Linked DNA regions of Homo sapiens: regions 2, 3, 4 and 5 are each linked to region 1. Evidence: fine-mapped expression QTL. A gene starts in region 1. Each other region holds a variant in brackets. All regions are shown on one strand. Distances are between the middles of the regions. Region 1 holds the start of KRT23 (keratin 23). Region 2 overlaps LOC105371777 (a long non-coding RNA gene). Region 3 holds the start of KRTAP3-2 (keratin associated protein 3-2). Region 4 holds the start of KRTAP4-16 (keratin associated protein 4-16). Region 5 holds the start of KRTAP3-3 (keratin associated protein 3-3).

What was found. PIP is the estimated chance that this variant, and not a neighbour inherited with it, causes the effect. A credible set is the group of variants that fine-mapping cannot tell apart.
Region 2: its variant is the best candidate, but not a certain one, in a credible set for the expression of KRT23 in whole blood (TOPMed, PIP 0.67).
Region 3: its variant is the best candidate, but not a certain one, in a credible set for the expression of KRT23 in whole blood (INTERVAL, PIP 0.60).
Region 4: its variant is the best candidate, but not a certain one, in a credible set for the expression of KRT23 in whole blood (TOPMed, PIP 0.54).
Region 5: its variant is the best candidate, but not a certain one, in a credible set for the expression of KRT23 in whole blood (INTERVAL, PIP 0.67).

What each region holds. Positions count from the first base shown.
Region 1 is chr17:40,935,883-40,940,004 of GRCh38, reverse strand. KRT23 (keratin 23) reads left to right here and starts at 2,359. Exons shown (of 9, transcript NM_015515.5): 1 at 2,359-2,659; 2 at 3,052-3,797. The coding sequence starts at 3,402. All of the region lies in intron 1 of LOC107985072 (a long non-coding RNA gene), which reads right to left.
Region 2 is chr17:40,889,162-40,893,283 of GRCh38, reverse strand. The region is part of intron 1 of LOC105371777 (a long non-coding RNA gene); the gene reads right to left. Among named protein-coding and RNA genes, the nearest start is that of KRT20, 6.0 kb to the right of the region's middle. The variant G/A (reference allele first, on the strand shown) is at 2,104.
Region 3 is chr17:40,998,962-41,003,083 of GRCh38, reverse strand. KRTAP3-2 (keratin associated protein 3-2) reads left to right here and starts at 3,178. Exons shown (of 1, transcript NM_031959.3): 1 at 3,178-3,891. The coding sequence starts at 3,231. The coding sequence ends at 3,527. The variant G/T (reference allele first, on the strand shown) is at 2,031.
Region 4 is chr17:41,099,981-41,104,102 of GRCh38, reverse strand. It overlaps KRTAP4-16 (keratin associated protein 4-16), which reads left to right and starts at 1,894. Exons shown (of 1, transcript NM_001396067.1): 1 at 1,894-2,601. The coding sequence starts at 1,894. The coding sequence ends at 2,601. The variant C/T (reference allele first, on the strand shown) is at 2,328.
Region 5 is chr17:40,992,413-40,996,534 of GRCh38, reverse strand. KRTAP3-3 (keratin associated protein 3-3) reads left to right here and starts at 2,371. Exons shown (of 1, transcript NM_033185.3): 1 at 2,371-3,105. The coding sequence starts at 2,438. The coding sequence ends at 2,734. The variant G/C (reference allele first, on the strand shown) is at 2,175.

The DNA of each region.
Region 1 (4,122 bases):
GTATAATAAGCATGTATCATTTCTTTTAATGCTTTTAAAATGATGCTTTTAAAAAAGCATCATTTCTTTTAAAATCCAATGGAACTCTACACATTAGAAGTTATGGAAAACCAGGGCCGGGTGCGGTGGCTCATGCCTATAATCCCAGCACTTTGGGAGGCCGAGGTGGGTGGATCACAAAGTCAGAAGTTCAAGATCTGCCTGGCCAACATGGTAAAACCCCGTCTCTACTAAAAACTACAAAGATTAGCCGGGCGTGGTGGCACGCACCTGTGGTCCCGGCTACTCGGGAGGCTGAGGCAGAAGAATCGCTTGAACCCGGGAGGTGGAGGTTGCAGTGAGCCACGATCACATCACTGCACTCCAGCCTGGGCGACAGGGCGAGACTCTGTCTCAAAAAAAAAAAAAAGAAGTTATGGAAAATTGGCTGGGCAGGGTGGCTCATGCCTGTAATCCCAGCACTTTGGGAGGCCAAGGCAGGCAGATCATGAGGTCAGGAGTTCAAGACCAGCCTGGCCAACATGGTGAAACCCCGTCTCTACTAAAAATACAAAAAATTAGCTGGGCATGGTGGTGCGCACCTGTAATCCTAGCTACTCGGGAGGCTGAGGCAGGAGAATCGCTTGAACCCAGGAGGCGGAGGTTGCAGTGAGTCAAGATTGCGCCATTGCACTCCAGCCTGGGTGACAGAGCAAAACTCCATCTTGAGAAAAAAAAAAAAAGAAGTTATGGGAAACCATCATATAACAGTACTAGAAGAGACTATTTCTCCCCAGTGCTCTCAGATCTCACCACCAGTTTTTCCTGGCCCTGGTCCTGCTATGACACAAGAAATCTTTTGCTCAAGGATAAGTCCTATAAATCAAAACTCCCACACATGGACATAAAATGAGACAGTGGCCAAATCTATGGGGTTGATAAGTCACTGCCACTCAGACATGCCTGAAATAATTAGAGAAGCATTAATTTCATTGTAGATTCTGGTGAGAGAATTTAGAAAAAGGCAGTGCAGCCCGGCCCTTGCACATGCTAAAGGTAAATGTTTTCTTCCTTGGTAAGTCTGGGTCCAGGCGAACAGGAACCAGAGCTGACCATAACTTTGATGACCAGGAACCGTCCACATCCACAGAACACTGGTTGCCACCACTCGCCAAACAAGTCTCTCTAGTTCCCTCATTTGCTCTATTTTTATCACTTGTCTCTTTTGTCTTTTTCTCATATCTGAGATGTAAGTGACTGTCGGCACTCTTTCTAAGCACTCTCCAAGCTTCCCTGAGGCTTGGAGGCTCATTTTTCCAGCTCGTGCACAGTGAAATAAAAAATATTCAGAGACTCTTCCCTGATAAGGTTTTGTTGTAAGACTGGGAGGAGCAGAGCTGGTGTGCTTTTGGGTGGCTTTATTTGTAATTGGAAAAGATTGGCCTTCATGGATGGTTAATCTATACCCAGGAGAGGCGTTTTCCTACTTTCTAGTTCTATAACTCACAGTCCTAAAAGGAGCAGAAGTTGATGGCATCAGGAGACCTGTGTTAAAATCCTGACTCTAAAAAGTTTATGATTGAGTCAACATACATTTGCAAAATACCACCAAGAAACCAGACTTTGGTGCTCAAAAATGGAAGACATAAACTCTGCTTTCAAGAAGCCTGCGGTCTCAGAAGGGTGTGGCAAATGCAGTATAATGGAGTGAAAGAACGGAGTGGACTTCATCCCAGGCACAGGAGGTGGCTGCGCCTGGCTAGGGGCTCCCAGCTTCCACCATGAGGTGGGATGCCAAGGTGTCTGCCCCTCTGGAGGACCTCGGCATCCAGAAGAGGCAGTTTCCTCCTAGAGGGTCACCCAACTCATGCAGGAGAATTCAGAAAATGATTGTTGAAGGAGGTAGCCCTTGAACTATAGAAGAGGTAGGGGTGAGTGACTTTCCAGGCAGGGAGGACAGCACAGACTCGGGCAGTGTCACCTATGAATTCATGTGCTCAATTACACTGTACATGCGAATCAGCTCTGGATCATTCATCCCTATGAGACCCTGATTCTTTGTCTGCAAAATGAAGACAACAACCCTTGCCTGGATACATAAAGAGTTGTGAGGATTCAATAAAGAATATAAAAGAGCTACACCAATTGGCAAGTCCTATTATTATGAAAGAGAAGTGTGGTACAGGACCTGTCAAGATTCAACCCAAGATAACAGTGCTATGTGGAGAAAGAATCTAGCCCTGGCTCTGCCACTAACCTCCCCACCACCATAGGCCTCAGCTTTCCTCATCTGTCCAATTAGTGGCTTGGAACCAGAAAGGCCAGAAGCCCTTCCTGCGCTGATATTTTATTTGTAAGTCCCCTTTAAATCCAACTGCCAGTAACTAGCACGTGGCTCCCGCCCCCAGACTGCTTCTTTATTCATTCCTAACCTTTACCTTGGCAGATGAAATATAAGATTCATCAACCACATTTGACAGCCCATGGCAGGTTTCCTGTTTTCCATCGTCCCTCTGCAGGTCACAGACACACAGAGCCCAGCCGTGGCAGGCTCAGCCGGGGTCCGGGGCTGCTAACAACGGCTACATTCCTCCCCCAGGGCCAAGGGAAATCCTGAGCGCAGGCCAGGGTTGTTTGGTTTTGAGGTGTGCTGGGATGAAAGGCACCCTGGAAGTGGAAGGTTCGGTCATTCATTAATTAATTACATCTATAATTGAGGGTTTGTTCTTAAGAGCGAGTCCTTTGAAAGTACTTTCCTTCAAACAGTGACTGCCACAAAGGCATCAGATATTCACCACCTTCTCGGCTGCCTCAGCACAGCAAGCTTTATTCTGGGACCTGAGATCCTGTTCTGAGCTGGCTTTCCCTTCTCCAGGCTCGCTCACCCTCCCTTTAGAGGTGGGGCTTATTGGGGGTGGAAAAAGGTGTGTGTATCTCTGTTGTTTAATGTCTGGTTTTTTGTTGCTGTTGTTGTTGTTTTGTTTTGGTTTTGGTTTTTGGTTTTTTTTAAGGAAATCTATACTACATCGAATATGCTTTCTTTTGGGTGGACTTTAACCTAACCCATTCCAGGTAAATGAACAATGGAAAAACTTCACGGCAAGATTAGAAAGATACCTGAGCCCAATACCCGCCTGATGTCGTGGGCCACACCTCCGGGTTACCAGGGGAAGGGAGGAAGCAAACTGTCATATTGATGTGGCTCTAAACAACAACAGTGTGCGAAGGCCCAGGGGCACTTTGGGATTGACCAAGAGGAAACACAAGTTGCACAATGATACAATCTTGTTGGTACAATTGTCAGAGAAGGGAACTCCCACAGCAAAGGCCATAAAACCATCCAGGGCAGTCTGGGGCGGCTCAGTTCTGCGGTGCCAGGGAGTGGAGCAGAGCTCAGCCCCGTCCCAAACACAGATGGGACCATGAACTCCGGACACAGCTTCAGCCAGACCCCCTCGGCCTCCTTCCATGGCGCCGGAGGTGGCTGGGGCCGGCCCAGGAGCTTCCCCAGGGCTCCCACCGTCCATGGCGGTGCGGGGGGAGCCCGCATCTCCCTGTCCTTCACCACGCGGAGCTGCCCACCCCCTGGAGGGTCTTGGGGTTCTGGAAGAAGCAGCCCCCTACTAGGCGGAAATGGGAAGGCCACCATGCAGAATCTCAACGACCGCCTGGCCTCCTACCTGGAGAAGGTTCGCGCCCTGGAGGAGGCCAACATGAAGCTGGAAAGCCGCATCCTGAAATGGCACCAGCAGAGAGATCCTGGCAGTAAGAAAGATTATTCCCAGTATGAGGAAAACATCACACACCTGCAGGAGCAGGTAAGATGCTGGGTGACCCTGGAGATCCAGATGGGGCTGCTTTGCCAGGGGACCCTCGGGAGGAAAAATGAGTCCAGAAGACAATTTCCAGGAAAATGGCATCAGCGCTTGAAGTAATTGTGCACAAAGGTTTTGGGGGATGTTTTCTTATTATATCTTAAATTTGGAGTGGGAAACGTCTGTTTTGTTTAATTAGTCTACTGTCCATGGATAATGTAGAAAAAGAAGGCAGCAAAAATGATAGAAGTGCTACAGACTGTTTCAAAAATGAGACTACTGATTTCTCACAGACCAAAAACATCTTTAAAATGTGAGGCAACCAGCT
Region 2 (4,122 bases), 47 kb after region 1:
GAAGAATCGCTTGAATCCAGGAGGCGGAGGTTGCAGTGGGCCAAGATCATGCCATTGCACTCTGGCCTGGGCAACAGCGCAAGATTCTGTCTCAAAAAAAAAAAAATCAATAATACTGGAGAAAACCTTTCCTACGTACCTTATCAGTACCTTATTATGCACTCCCAGCCTGGTCTCCAAATCAGAATACTCAACAGTCTTCCTCTTCATCCAGGTCTCCTCCACCTAAATCTGACACAAGTGCTACAAACTTGGCATTTCCACAAACACACCATGTTTCCCTTTGCAATGAGATTCTGTCATTTGCAACAACATGGATGGAACTGGAGGTCATTATGTTAAGTAAACCATCTCCCAAACCATCTCCCAGTCCTGTCCCAGTGTCCCCCTTGCCATGGGGTACCACTATCACCACCCAGTCATTCTCATCTCATCCTATTCCCCATGTCCCACACCCACTCATTCCACAAAGGAATCAGGGCCAAAGCCCATGCACACACTATACCCAAGAAAGAGAGACATGCACAGGAGAGATGAACGGGGTGACCAACTGTCCTGGGACTGACTGTCCCAGTTTTAACTCTGAAAGTCTCACATTGCAGAAAGCTCTGTGTCCTGGGCAAACCAGGACAGTTGGTCATCCTGGAGGGAAGGAATTTGAGAGCACAGGGATGGCTTCCTGGAAGAGATGACATGCAGAAGAAGAGAAGGGGATGGAGTATACAGAAGCATGGAATGGAGGAATCAGTGGTGTGTGTTACTGGAGTGTGCCATCTGAGGCATGGAGGGGTGACCAGGGGGTCTAAAAAGGTAGGCAGGAGCTAGATCTTTGAGAGCTGTATATTGGACTTGACTACATACTGTTGTCAGTTTTTTACAGAAGTGAAATAATCAGATTTGCATTTTTAGGTAGGTGTTTGAGACTGGACCTCAACGTTCATGAACTAATGATGGCTAGAAACAGGTGCTAATATTATTTTTAAATTGTCAGTAACTTCTTTACTATGATTCTAGAGGTAGGAACTAGAATTAGTCTTGGTGACAAATTATTCTTCTGTTTTGGGAGGAATTCAGTTGGGCTCTCTCTTAGTCAAGCTTGTGTAAAATAAGTACTCACTTGTCCTTGGCATAACACTGGACATGGGCAAAATAACACGGATACGGAGCCAATTGCAGGGGTGAAGAGGACCGTTGAGCCTGTGGCTTCCCAGTCAGAGATTTAGGATGTTAAATCCAAATGCAGCCCTATCTGGTTTCAAACGTCACCTCTGGGATGAAAAGATTATATCCATCTTGGCTAGGCACAGTGGCTCACACTTGTACTCACAACATTTTGGGAAGCCGACGCAGGAGGATCACGATTAAGATATCCATCTCATCCGTTGAAACTATGCCCCCACACTGGACCACGTAGCCTATAGTACACTAAAATAAGTTAGTATTTTTTAAATAAATCTTGTGATTGGTACAGGTTTATTGTATTATGAGATTTTGTGTTGCAAATGGTAATGTAAAGGAAATATAAACACTTTAAATTTTTTTCAATTGTTTAATATACCAGGAGCTTCAAAAATTGGAAATGGTCTAGATGCCCCTCAGACTCTGAAAGGACTTGCAAAGGAGTGTGCATCAGAGACAGGAGGAATCTGTGACCATCATTTGCAATCTACATTATCTATATGTATATCTCTTAAGCATACATTATTTCGTTTTGCCTGTTTTTATACTATATATCAATAAAATCTGGATGGATTCTGTTGTCTTTTTTCAGCATTATGTTTTTTAATATTTATCCATGTCAATAATGTAATTTATCTTTTTTTTATTTTTATTTTTTATTTTTTTTTATTTTTTTTTTTAGGCAGAGCCTGGCTCTTTTGCCCAGGCTGGAGTGCAGTAGCATGATCTCGGCTCACTGCAACCTCCACCTCCTGGGTTCAAGCGATTCTCCTGCCTCAGCTTCCCGAATAGCTGGGATCACAGGCGCCCACCACTATACCCAGCTAATTTTTGTATTTTTAGTAGAGACGGGGTTTCACCATATTGGCCAGGCTGGTCTCGAACTCCTCGCCTCAAGTGATCTACCCAACTCAGGCTCCCAAA[G/A]TGCTGGGATTACAGGCATGAGCCACAGCGCCCAGCTAATTTATCCATTTTTAGCTGTTGCATAGCATCCCACTGTACGAACATGTATCAACGCATTTATTCATTCTACTCTTAACATTTGAGTTGTTTCCAGTTTTCTGTTGTGTGTGTGTATGTTAGTACGTGTGTGTGTTGTTAATATGAACAATGCTTCTGTGAATATTCTTGTACATGTCTATCGTTCAATATTTACAAGAGTTTCTCTGAAGTGTACACCTAGGAATTGTTTGCTGAGTGATGGCTATATGAATGTTCAGCCTTCTAAGATAATCTCAAACTATTTTACAAAGTGATTGTACCTACTTATACAGCTAACATGAATGGACTGGAATTCCCCTCGGCCACCTTGCTATCGTCCAACTTTTTAAATTTTTCCGATTGGCAGATGTGGAATGGGCCATTCAGCTTTCCTCTTCTCTGCAAATCTATTCATATTTTGCCCACTTTCTCACTGGGATGCTTTTCTTTTTCTTATTGATTTGTAGGAATTTTCCATATTCTGGAAACTAATTGCTTGTCAGTTACATGACTTCTAAATATCTGCTCCCTGTTTGAGGCTTTTTTCATTATAATTATGGTATATTTTAATGAATAAAAATTGCTAAATCAGTATCAATTTTGTACTTCACAGTTTTCACTTTTTGTGTCTTGTTTAAAAATACTCCTTTACTCTAATTCCTAGAGATATTATTCTGTGTTTTCTTCTAAATGTTGTATAGTTTTTAACTTTTCACATTTTTATCTTTAATGAATCTGGAATTCATTTTCTTATATTTTAGGTAAATTTTGCCTTAGACAGAAATACAACTGCCATTTGTTAAATATGGGATACTCCATTTCTTTCCTCATTGATTTGAAATGCCCAAGCCGTACAAAATTAGTTTCTATAGGCAACAGATCTGTTTCTGAGCTCTTTGTGCTAATTCACTGGCTTATTTCCAGATCATTGTAAGAGCCATCATGTGAAAGGCAAAACCATAAAATTAGAAAACATAATATGCATTCTTTTTTTTCTTCAACTTTTATTTTAAGTTCAGGGGTAAATGTGCAGGATGTGCAGTTTTGTTACATAGGTAAACATGTGCCACGGTGGTTTACTGCACAGATCATCCCAACACCCAGGTATTAAGCCTAGCGTCCATTAGCTATTCTTCCTGATGCTTTCCCCCCAACCACAGGTGCCAGTGTGTGTTGTTCTCCGCCATGTGTCCCTGTGTGGAAAATATAATATGCATTCTTAACCTGTCAATATCTAAAGTTAATCTGTATGTTTGCTGTTTTCCTAAACAGTCCCGCAATTTAGAACAATTTAACTCCATTCATCCCCTTCCAGCCCTCATCTACTTTAATTCCATATTGTTTTTTCTTCTCAATAGATATATTATTTTATAGCCAATACTTGTCTTTACATTTACATTTGGTCGCATGCTTAGCACTCTATTTGTTCATTATTTTAATTCTTTTATGCATCTCAGAACTTTCATCTGGAATCATCTTCCTTCTGCTTAAAACACATTCTTTCAGATTGCTCTTAGTGAAAACTTAGAAGTTGATGGCAAATTCAGTTTTTTAAATGTTGAAAATGGCTTTATTTTACCCTTCTTCAAATATAATGTTACCGAGTCAGAAAATTCCGGAATGGCAGTTATTTCCTCCCAGCACATTGAAGATTCTATTCCATTTCCAGTGTCCATTGTTGCTTTTGAGGAGTCAGTCATCAGTCTAACCACCATTCCTTTGTTGGTGATTTATTCTCTATCTGCTTGTAATTATCTGGTTTTCTGCCTCAATGTGTGTAGTGATTTATTTTTATTCCTTTTGCCTGGAATTCATTAGGTCTCCTTAATCTGAGAACTTGGGTTTTTTTTAAAGAATTCTATAAAATTCTCACTTTTTATTTTGTTGAATGTTTTCTTATTCTCTTGTGTCTTCTTCTGGAACTCTGATTAGACATATTTAGACCTTCTAATTATAGCCTTC
Region 3 (4,122 bases), 63 kb before region 1:
AAAGAAACAGTATGAACGAGGTCACAGAGGGTAAAGTACCTAGGAGACTCCCGCCTTCACTTTATGTAATGTGCTGTATGATTAACATATGCGTGACTCACATAGTTATCATTTTTGTGATGAGAACACTTAATCCATTCTCTCAGCGTTTTTCAAAAATGCAATATATGGTTATTCACTATAGTCACCATGTTGTACAGTAGATCTCCTGAATCTATATAATATTTCAAAATCGATTTTAAAAGAGAAGTCAGAGAGAACACAGAGAATGGGAGAGGGTCTTCTTCATATATTCTACTTGCCAAGCCACTGGCTTCTAGATGAGAGAGACTGGTAAGTCAAGAGTAAGTAAACATTAAACATTTCCTTGACGATTTCAATACTAGTTCATTAACTTTGAATTTTATAATATACTGGGAAAGCCACTTGAATTTGCTTATCTGTTCTTCAGTGGTAAAGTGCAGGTATTGAGGCAGGAGACTAGCAAAGGGAATTAAAACTTGGATAAAGGGTGGAGTGAATAAAAGCAGAGACCAGAAGCAAGGTGAAGGGGCAGGTAAGCAAGAAGCAAGATAAGAAGCAGAAGTTAGACCAGGCGCGGTGGCTCATGCTGTAATCCTGGCATTTTGGGAGGCCGAAGCAGGTGGATCACTTGAGATCAGGAGTTCAAGACCAGCCTGGCCAACATGGAGAAACACCCCTCTCTACAAAAAATACAAAACTTAGCTGGGTGTGGTGGCGGGCACCTGTAATCCCAGCTGCTACTTGGGAGTCTGAGGTAGGAGAATCACTTGATCCCAGAAAGTAGAGGCTGCAGTGAGCAGAGAATGCCACTGCACTCCAGCCAAAACAAAAAGTAAGATAGAGAAGAAAGCAAGGCCCCCATGGCCGGCAAGATAAGGACCAAACCAGTAAGGGGCAACTCTTCATGGATAAGCATGTGCATTAAAGAGAAAACGTATCCTTAACATGACCTTGTATGAAAATCAGCTCATTCAGGCTTATGCATATGGACTGCATATCATGTATGTACTTAAAATTATGGGCTGGAGGTGGTGCGCAAGCACACAGGGGCCAAAGTAACTAAGCAACACACCTGTCAATCAAAGAGGCAAACACTGGCTAGAGATTAGGCAGCCTTGGGAAGGGACACACACACACACATACACACACACACACACACACAAAGACGCAAACTGCACCAAGCTGGGGGCTGATCTCATCTCACAGAGGCTGGTTTGCTCTCCCCCTCTTAGAGTGTAATACTGTGCTTAATACACTTTTGTTTCTTTGTTTTGCTGTGGGTGTCTCGTCCAATTCTTTGGGACACCAAAAGCCTGGAACTGCATGGCACCATCTGGTAACAGTATGATGTTCGACACCCTTGGCATTTGTTGTAAATTCCTGCTAATAAAAATGATTTGAAGCTGTTTTCTGTTTTTTTGTTTTTAACTTTTAAGTTCAGGGGTACCTGTGCAGGTTTGTTACATAGGTAAGCTGGTGTCATGGGGGTTTGTTGTACAGATTATCTCATCACCCACGTATTAAGCCTAGTACCTACCAGTTATTTTTCCTGATCCTGTCCCTCCTCCCACCTTCCACCCTCTGATAGGTTCTAGCATCTGTTATTCCCCTCTATGTGTCCATGCGTTCTCATCATTTAGCTACCACTTATAAGTGAGAACATGCAGTATTCGGTTTTCTGTTTCTGCATTAGTTACTAAAGATAATAGCCTCCAGCTCCATCCATGTTTCTTCAAAGGATAGGAGCTCCTTATTTTTTATGGCTGCATAGTATTCTATGGCATATATGTACCACATATTTTTGTTGTTAAAGAAAAAGATAAACTGGTTGTTTTAACGTATAACGTATAAGGCTTACCTACCAATGACATTTGATATTTTCCACTGATTTTAGCCAGCTTTCTTCTCTTTTAAGTAGATCGTACTGGTTTTTGGTAATGTCCCCTCAGAAACAACCTACCCGGAATCTTTGCTTTCTGTTAAGTCAACAAATTGCCACATAACGA[G/T]TATGTAATTTAAATTATACAATATTATCTGAAAGGATTTGTGCTGATCATGGACAGGTGTAGGAAGATGTTGGAATCTAGAATATTACACATTTGATATTATCTAGTTCAATCTCTGGCTGACTTAAGTAAATAATGTTGTTTAAGGCATACCTCAAAGGAATTTCAATCTAGTTCAAGATCCAAGGTATGAAAACAAATAAACATGCAAAGTAGGGAGTAAGTCAGTGAAAAAGTGATTTTTATGAATGCCATAGTTCTAAATTGCATTGAGTCAGATTCCCTGCCAAAATCCATGATTGTTCTGTGACTCTTGTGGTTTCTCCTTTTAATTCTTATTTCATCTTATTTTAAAGTATGTACACCATTCATGTGAAAATGAATCAAGGCTGAGGTGGTTTTCTTTTAGTGGTATATTCAACAAAGAATGGCCACTGTGTGGATCCTTCCTTCCAATGAATTTATACTTTGATTCACCACAAGATTGGCATAACTTTGAGAATAGAGACTATTTTAGAAAAAAAAAATCCATAGAATAATACAACATTGAGAAATTCACTACAGATTTAATAAAAATAATAAAAAGGAGTTTCTTCATCCTGTACCATTCTACCACTTTGCTTGCTCAATAGAACCTGAATTATAATATCACTAAATAATGCAAACATGTCCGAGATGCCTGTAGTCACATGAAACATTCATCTGTAAATAGCCATATTCTTGTTGACTTTATTGAGTTGAAAATGGTCCAGTTCATCATTTGAGTTACTCATTCTGAAATTAGTCATTAGAAATCACATTATCCATAGTATTTTAAATTAAGAGGGAAAAACAAGAAGAGTTTGGCCTCCAAAATTACAGCTGAATTGTCACTTGGATTGATTACCCATAAAAGTCATATAAGGTTTGGCATGCCAGAAACCTGTGAAGACAAAATGTGATGATCTTGTGACAAAAATGACAAGTCAATGAGTCAAAAATATGATTAACTTAATAAGAGCGGGAACTCTTAATGGACATGTAAATGACAAACTGATTAGAGAATCTCAGTGAAAAAGGGTGCCATAAACAAAACAGGAAGGCTTCCAGTTGGACCAATGCCCACTTGGGAGGGTATATAAGAGCCCTAACAAAAGAGGAGACATTTGTACCTCAGAATCCTCATCTAAGAAACTGAAAGCTAACCAGACGCCCATTGCCATGGATTGCTGTGCCTCTCGCAGCTGCAGTGTCCCCACTGGGCCTGCCACCACCATCTGCTCCTCCGACAAATCCTGCCGCTGTGGAGTCTGCCTGCCCAGCACCTGCCCACACACAGTTTGGTTACTGGAGCCCATCTGCTGTGACAACTGTCCCCCACCCTGCCACATTCCTCAGCCCTGCGTGCCCACCTGCTTCCTGCTCAACTCCTGCCAGCCAACTCCGGGCCTGGAGACCCTCAACCTCACCACCTTCACTCAGCCCTGCTGTGAGCCCTGCCTCCCAAGAGGCTGCTGATGGATGGCTACTTTGCTCAGTGCCCGACAACGAAGAATCCAGAAGCTGTCCCTTCAGTATTCACTTGCCTCAGTAGTTTGCCAGATGTTAAGGTAGACCAGATGACCCAGATATGAAGAACTTACCTTTGGTTTTAATGGGGGAAAAAAAGAAAAGTATTTTTTATGGTTATTTAGCTGAAAAACCATTTGGTTCCTGTGGGCAGGTGAATGAGTTTTATTAGCAAAATACTGTTTCAATCTTTAAGACCTCAGATTACATGTTCTTGATCATATTGCTTCCTGGCTCTTGTTTCTTGTACTGGGTATTTTCATAGAAGAAAATTTCTTGGTGGGTTTTCCAATAAACTATATTTCTCTGGCAAGATGTGTCATTTGTTTATGTTAGTTTTGGGTATATTTCTTCCATTTTAAAAAGGTAAAAACAGGATGATTATTTTAATCTTTTAAAGAAGACTCTATTGGCAGAATGACTAACATTCTTGCTACTACTAACATGGCTTGCTAACTTTTAACAGGTTCTCTTTCATGTTTGCCTTCTCTTCTCTCTTCTTCCTCAGACAAGTGCAATTTTGGTGTGAACCAACATTTATTTA
Region 4 (4,122 bases), 160 kb before region 1:
ATGTTTCATCTTTTTTTGTCCACTCTGCAAACTCCTACTCATGTGTCAAAACCCAGTTAAAATATTTCCTTCTCAATAATATATTTCCTAATAAGCTACCCCATTCATCTATTATTATTTCCTGTCTTGTGCTCATAATTTGATACATTCTACTGTATCATAGACATTTACTTCTTTCATTCCCCCATATACAGTGCAAATACCCTGAATGCATGGGCTATGATGTTTCTTTTTGTTACCATGATACTCAGGACAGAGAACACTGGTGATAAATGTTTCTTGAGTGAATGAAGGCTTTTTGATGACATAGAAGCATGTAAGGTCCTTTAAAAGTGTATATATCTTTTGACTTCTGGATAAAAGAGAGGAAAACATTCCAAACAAGGGGATCAGAGTTTCATTTCAGGAAAACTACACTTATTTCTATGGTAAGTAACATGTCCCCTGATAAATAACATATGTGGAAAGTTGTGGAAGTTAGGATTCTGTTTATAGAATGAGACTTGGTTATAGATAACCAGGAATACCGTGTCTTCCCACTGTGGAAGGAAAAAGAGAGGGTGAGACAGAGAAAGAGGGAGTCAAACTCATCCTTTTATAAGGAACCCTCTTTTGTGATAACAGCATTAATCCACTCATGAGGGTGGTGTCACCATGACCCAAACATCTCCTGTTAGGCCCAACCTCCCAACACTGCGGCATTGAGGATCAAGTTTCCAACACATGAACTTTGAGGGACACATTCAAACCATTGCATTCCACCCTTGGTCCCCCAAATCCATGTCCTTCTCGTACACAAAATATATTCATTTTATTCCAATAGTCCCAAAGTATTAACTTGTTCCAGCACCAACTTAAAAGTCAAAATGTAAATCTAAGAGTCTCATGTGACTCTGATATGAATAAGACTCAACACAGGACTTATCCTGAGGCAAATTCTCCTCCATATGTGAACCTATTAAAGAAGTTATCTAGTTCCAAAATCCAATGGTGGGAGAGGCATAGGATAGACAGGCCCATTCCAAAAGGCAGCAACAGGAAAGAAAAAAGGGTAACTGGCCCCAGGTGAGTCCAACAGGGAAGACAGCATTAAATCTTAAGACTGGAGAATAAACTTCGACTCCATGTGCTGTCTCCTGGATGTGCCCGACATGGGGAAGGGCTGCCTGGGGCCTTGGTGTTAGGCCCCAAATGCCCTCAGATAGCCCTGCCCCATGGCTTTGCTGGGCTCAGCCCATACAGCAGCTATCTGATTGGAGTCTCTGCTGCAGCTCTCTCAGGCTAGTATTGCAGGCTGATAGTTCTACAGTTCTAGGGTCTCAGTGGCTGCTCTGACCCCCCGTTTTCCTGAGCATGGCCCTAGGAGGACCTCTCTGCTGTGGCTACACCCCTAAGGCAGGCTGTCAGAAACATCCTTTCAAACCTAGGTGGACCACCATTGCCCCACAACTCCTGCAGTCTGTGTATCTACAGTCAGTACTACATGAACACCACCAAGGCTCACAGTTTGTGGCCTCTGCAGCAGCAGCGCAAGTCTCATCTAAACCCACTTGAGCCACAACTGGAGCAGCAAAGGGGCACTGTGCTAGAATGTGGAGAGTACCAAACCCTTTCTGACCTTAAGATTCTCTCATTTGGAGCCTGTGATGGGAGGGACAGCTTCAAAGATCTTTGAAATGCCTTCAGAGCCATTCTCCCACTGATTTGATGAACAGCACCTAGCTTCCTTCTATTCATATCAATCCTTGTAACAAAGCATTACTTGGCCACAATCTTGCATGCTTTTTCATTCTTTATATGGTCAGTCTCCACATTTTCCACATCTTTATGTTCTGTTTCCCTTTTAATTATGAATTCCACCTTTAAATCATTTCTTTCCTCTTGCATTTTACTATGTGCAGTTCAAAGATGCCATGCAGCCCCAGTGCTTCCAGTCTGTGTGCTGCCAGCCCACCCAACTGCTGTCACCCCAGCTGTTGTCAGACCACCTGCTGCAGAACCACCTCCTGCTCCCACAGCTGCTCTGTGTCCAGCTGCTGCAGACCCCAGTGCTGCCATTCCGTGTGCTGCCAGCCCACCTGCTGCCGCCCCAGCTGCTGTCAGACCACCTGCTGCAGGACGACCTGCTGCCACCCCAGCTGCTGTGTGTCCAGCTGCTGCAGACCCCAGTGCTGCCATTCCGTGTGCTTCCAGCCCACCTGCTGCCACCCCAGCTGCTGCATCTCCAGCAGCTGCTGCCCCTCTTGCTGTGAATCGAGCTGCTGCTGCCCCTGCTGCTGCCTGCGTCCAGTCTGTGGTCGAGTCTCCTGCCACGTCACTTGCTATCA[C/T]CCAACCTGTGTCATCTCCACCTGCCCCCACCCCTTGTGCTGTGCCTCCCCTCCCCTTCCCCTCCCCTTCCCTTCCCCACCCGTTCCCCTCCCTTTCTTCCTTTCCCTTGCCCTCCCCTCCCCTCCCCGCCCTTCCCCTCCCCTCCTCTCCCCAGTGTTAATCCCCTCCCCTTCCCCTTCCCCTTCTCTCCCTTCACTTTCCCCTCCCCTCCCCTCCCCTCCCCTCCCCTCCCCTCATTTCCCCAGTGTTAATCCCAAGAGCATGCTTCAATAAACCTCCTGCATATTGCTCTCCATCTCAGTGTCTGCTTCCTGGGGAACCCAGCCTGTCCCCCAAAACAATTTGAAATTCATGATAGCTAATTTGAGAGCTCAAATGACTGACTGAAATGTACTTTTAATATTTTAGTTCCTGAAAGAAATAAGAATGTAAACATAATAGCAGAAAACATACTTAACAGAATCTGTAGAAAAAATTATGAATTTTATATAAATCAAATTTATTATTTTCTAAGGATTTTTATATCATTTATACACAAATATATGCTCTTTAAACATTTAGACAATACAAAAGAATGCAACCAAAGGTAAGTTTCCCATCACGGTCTTTGCCAATCCCATTCAATACCTAATGTTACAAATTGAGATACATCCTCATTAAATGCATGCATAACACATGTATGTATTTATTTGAAAACTTGGCTTTCGTTGCACATCTCTTGTTCTGACATTTATTCAAACGTTATTTTATGTCCTTCAGGAAATATTAACACTTTCCTTCACATAGGCTTGGCAGATTTATTTACATATTTTTCTATTTACTCTTGAGAATTGTGAGCACATTGTTCTTTTTTAAAATTATTCTTAAAGTCCTAGGGTACATGTGCACAATGTGCAGGTTTGTTACATATGTATACATGTGCCATGTTGGTGTGCTGCACCCATTAACTCGTCATTTACATTAGGTGTTTCTCCTAATGCTATCCCTCCCTCCTCCCCCCACCCCACGACAGGCCCCAGTGTGATTTTTCTCCATTAAATTTTAGAGACAATTATTGCTAGTGTATAAAAAGTCTATAGATTAGTATAAGTTCATATTTTATCTGATCTCATGATTCATACTAATACCCAGCTGACTCTCCAGGATTTTGTAGGTGTGCAATCATGGTGGCCAAGTGCCTCCAGCCTCAGGCCTGTCCCCGGGGTTCATCCCCAGATGCCCACAGTGGGGGTCCTACCATTAACACAAACACTGTTGGGATTTTCTACCTTTTCTGTCTTACTTTCGCCATTTCCTCACTTGTGCTTCCTGGGATCATCCCCCAAATAAATTATGTGCACCCAGGTATTTTTCTCAAGGTTTGCATTGGGTAGAATTTAAGTTAAGACAACAGATGATCAACAAACATTTTTGGCTGACTGATACGAAACTGGAAATAATAGTTATTTCAATCGACAAGAGTAAAACGAGGGAGTCAGGAGGTGAAGGAGAACCAGTGCTACCATCTGGCGTTTACTTCCTTCCTGTCTTTTTACTGTGTGAATATAGGCATGCACGTTCAACACTGTATTCCTGGTTATCTATAAACAAGTCTCATTCTATAAATTGAATCTTAACTTCCACAACTTTCCACATATGTTATTTATCAGATGACATGTTACCTACCACGTAAATTAGTTTAGTCTTCCTGAAATGAAATTATGATCTCTTTGTTTGGAATGTTTTCCTCTCTTTTATCCAGAAGTCAAAAGATATATACATTTTTAAAGGACCTTACATGCCTCTATGTCATCA
Region 5 (4,122 bases), 57 kb before region 1:
GAGGGCAAGGATGGTGCCTATCTTGTTTATTGCTATAAATCCAACATTTATCACAGTGACTAGCACATAGTAACTGCTCAGTAAATGTCTGTTGAATTACTTTTTAAATAATAAGTGAAATACTAATCAGTTCTAAGTAAAAGGGTGCACACTTCGGCAGGCATTCATACAAAGATAAATCTGGGGAAAGTCCAGGAACCAGAAGATATCATGAATTCTCCCTTTCAATCAGAGCCATAGGGAGCTTTTCAAATTTTTAGGTTTGTTAATTTATATGCCAACCACTTTCTCTAATCGTAGATGTGATTATTTATTTATTTATTTATTTGTATAAACTAATATAAATGTTTGCTCTTTCCTGTAAGGTTGCTCTCTTACTTACCTTCATCTCATTTTCTTTTCTTCTTTTGACTATGTTTCTTTTATCTTTACCTTGCCTTGAATTTCATCTGTAATTTGTTTCAATCATGATAATAATTTATTTTTGCATAGCATTATATGGTTGTCCATGAGCTTTCACCCTTTTTATCACATGTGAACCTCACAATAATCTTCTAAGTGGAGGAATATGCATGCTATTACCCTGATTTCGCAGAGAAAAAGGATGAAGCTCCTAAAAGTGAATTACTTACCATAACGAGGAAGATAACCAGCAGCACCGGGAACAGTCAAGAGCTATTCTGACTCCTCAGGTGGTCCTCTTGACTACACGTCCCCATTCCCAAAACATACAAACATGCACACCACAATGCACCACTCAACAGGTGTGCCTAAAAGAGGAGGTATGAAGAATGTGAGAAGAACCATGGCTTGCAAGAAGCATGAGACCAAGCTGAGCGGAAATGGTTCGAGGTGTATAAATGATATTGGCCACAAGCCCACCTTGTGCTCCCTCTTAAACACTGAACTATGCCTGCAGTCTAAATAGCGTACTGGTACTAGAACCAGGTCTTTCCTACCACAGCTACATTTGATTTCAGGAAAAAATGCAATACCTTGCAAAAAAAAAAAGAAAAAAAAGAGAGAGAGAGAATGAAATCAAATGTCAACAGATTAATCTAGCTCAGGCTCATAAGTTTCCTTTGGTAATAATTTTACTTGAATTTTAGTTTTGTATTCTTAAGTTATTATTTTATTTAGTCTATATAGACAGAAGCTAAAAATTCAATTTGCCCACAATTAGCAGTGAAGGAAACAAAGCAAGCCAACTCTCAATAGAAGACAGATGGCCAATATGCATATGAAGGAATATTTCAACCTAGCTGGTTATAAAAGAAATACAGACACAACAATCATAAAATTGTGTTTTTCACCAATGAAATTGGAAAACACCTTTAAAATAAAGTATCTGTCAAAGGTATACGAAATGGGAATTCTTAATCAAACACATCTGGTGGAAATAGATAATTTGAAAAAAAAAGTAGGTAAATAGAACCATTCTGAAAAACAGTATGGCAATGATATGAAAGGCCTTAAAAATACTGGAAATTAACATTTGCCCCTATAATTCTACCAAATAATTAATTCTGTTTCTGAAATAATCAAAAATATGCACAAAGATTTACATACAGAGGTGCTCTGTTGCCAAAATTATTGTAGAGAAAAGTGGAAAATAACCTCAATGCATAATAATATAAAATTTTAAAGTAACATAGAAGTGCAATTATATAATAAATGCTAAGAAATATTAAAAGTAACACTATCAAATATCCTTTAAAATATAAGATAATTATATATATATATAATATATATGCACACACACAAAGGCAAGTTTCAGAACCTATGCACAATATGATTCCAGTAATGTAATGTAATGATAAACAATGTATACAAAATATTTTGTAGTAAAAAACTAGAATAATAAGCGTTTTTTAAAGTTTTTCCATATTTCTTAATGGCATATTTCTTCATGTTAATGTAATTTTGATCTTCAAAAGCCTCAAAGCTAAAAGAAAGTAAAATTAAGTTCAACTCTTTAAAACAAGAATACTTTATCAGACAAATTGGTATAGATAAAGTGACAGATTAAAAATAAAGCAGCACTGGAGAGCAGGCCCACATATTACAGACTCACTGTCATGCAATATTCCCCAGCAGGGCTGGTGTTGAAAATATAATAACAGAAGGCTTTGGTGATACCTCATAAAGCTTGTGTTCCAGTGACAAATAGCAAG[G/C]GTAATCAGTTCAGATTTAGCAACGAACTCAAATAAAAGTTAATTAGGAAAATGGGGACTCTTTACAGAGTCTAAATGTCAAACAAATTAAAGAATAATGGGTACACTAACATAAACAAGAACCAGGAAAGAAGCCTCTTGGCTGGACCAACTCCCAGTGGAGAGGGTACATAAGAGCCCCAGAGAAAGGAGAGATATTCACACCTCAGAAGCCTTATCCTTCTTTTCAATCAAACCCATAAATACCACAGACTCTAATAGCCATGGATTGCTGTGCCTCTCGAGGCTGCAGTGTCCCCACCGGGCCTGCCACCACCATCTGCTCCTCTGACAAATCCTGCCGCTGTGGAGTCTGCCTGCCCAGCACCTGCCCACACACAGTTTGGTTACTGGAGCCCACCTGCTGTGACAACTGTCCCCCACCCTGCCACATTCCTCAGCCCTGCGTGCCCACCTGCTTCCTGCTCAACTCCTGCCAGCCAACTCCAGGCCTGGAGACCCTCAACCTCACCACCTTCACTCAGCCCTGCTGTGAGCCCTGCCTCCCAAGAGGCTGCTAATGGATGGCTACTTTGCTCAGTGCCTGAGATTGAAAAAGTCAACATAGAAGCTTTAGCATTCACCTATCTCAGTACCTACAACTAATGTACTCTGCTTTAGAAATTGGAACAAGGATGGTACTACCACAATCACCCCCTGCAAAAAAAAAGAGACCAAGAAACTTTCAATGACCATTCAGCTATAACCAACTGCAGTTTGAATCAGTGGATGCCTATAGCTTCCTGAAGCTGTTCGATTCCTTCATATTAAAGTGTCTCTTTCTGTGGGTGGTTTGGGAATTCTGTTTTCAGTCTTGGGTGGTATCTTTCTGAAAATTAAGGAAGTTCTTCATGATTATCCTAATAAATTTTACATCTCTGGCATAGCACAAGTGTCTACAATTACTTCTGTTTATTTCTGTTCATTCATTAAATGCGTTTCTTAACTCTGAACATTGGCATTTAAAGAAAAACTGGAAACATTAGTGAAACTGAAAATGGTGGCAGTATGGACAAAAATTTCTTAATTTTGCTGTTCTTGCTGTTTTAAGAAAATTAAACATCCTTGCATGTAAGATGGTCTAGTACATCGGCATATTTGAAAGTAGACTTTTCCTGACTTGTCCTCCCAAAAAATGGTTTCAGACAGGTTGAGAAATACTGAACATTACCCAAACACCAAATATGACAAAATATATAAACTAATCCAGGTGACATGATCTATTTATGAAAAAAATATAATAATGTCATTATTTATTCAACTAAGATTTATTAAATGTCTATTGTGTGTCCTGTGTTTTATTGTCTCTGCTGAAAATAAGCTAACCATCTGGCAGGTGAAGCAAATACAAACACAACATCCATTTGTTTCTTCCTACGGTTAATAATTATCGAATGCCAGTTGCTGTGTTATAATAAAAAAAGATGTGTTCTACCAGCAGTATTAGTAAAGTGCTGTGGGATCATAAAATTGAGAACAATGAAGACTGTTGTCATGGGGGTAAAGTGGGAAAGACATAGTCAAAGAGGAATTGACTGCAGCTAGTCATCAAAGGGATATGGAGGAAAAGAAAATATCAAAGAAAGACTAGACAGTGGAGTTATGTCACCAATTGAGCCTAGGAGCCGAGAAGGAGAAGAGAGTTCAAGATGGAAATACTCTGTTCTTCTTGCTCTACACAGGTCATGTTTGCAACACGAGTAGCTATATCTAAATGGGGTTTGGAAAGTTATTCTGGAGAGGAAGAAGATATACGTAGGTAAGTAAAGAAGACTGTGTAAAAGTTCTCAAGTACTTACAGAAGGCACAGTTGCAAATACGCTGGCTGAAATTCCATCAGGCATAGCAAAGAGTGGCTGCTGGGTGATTAGAAGCTGAGTGGAGATACCAGAGGTCATTCACTATTAAC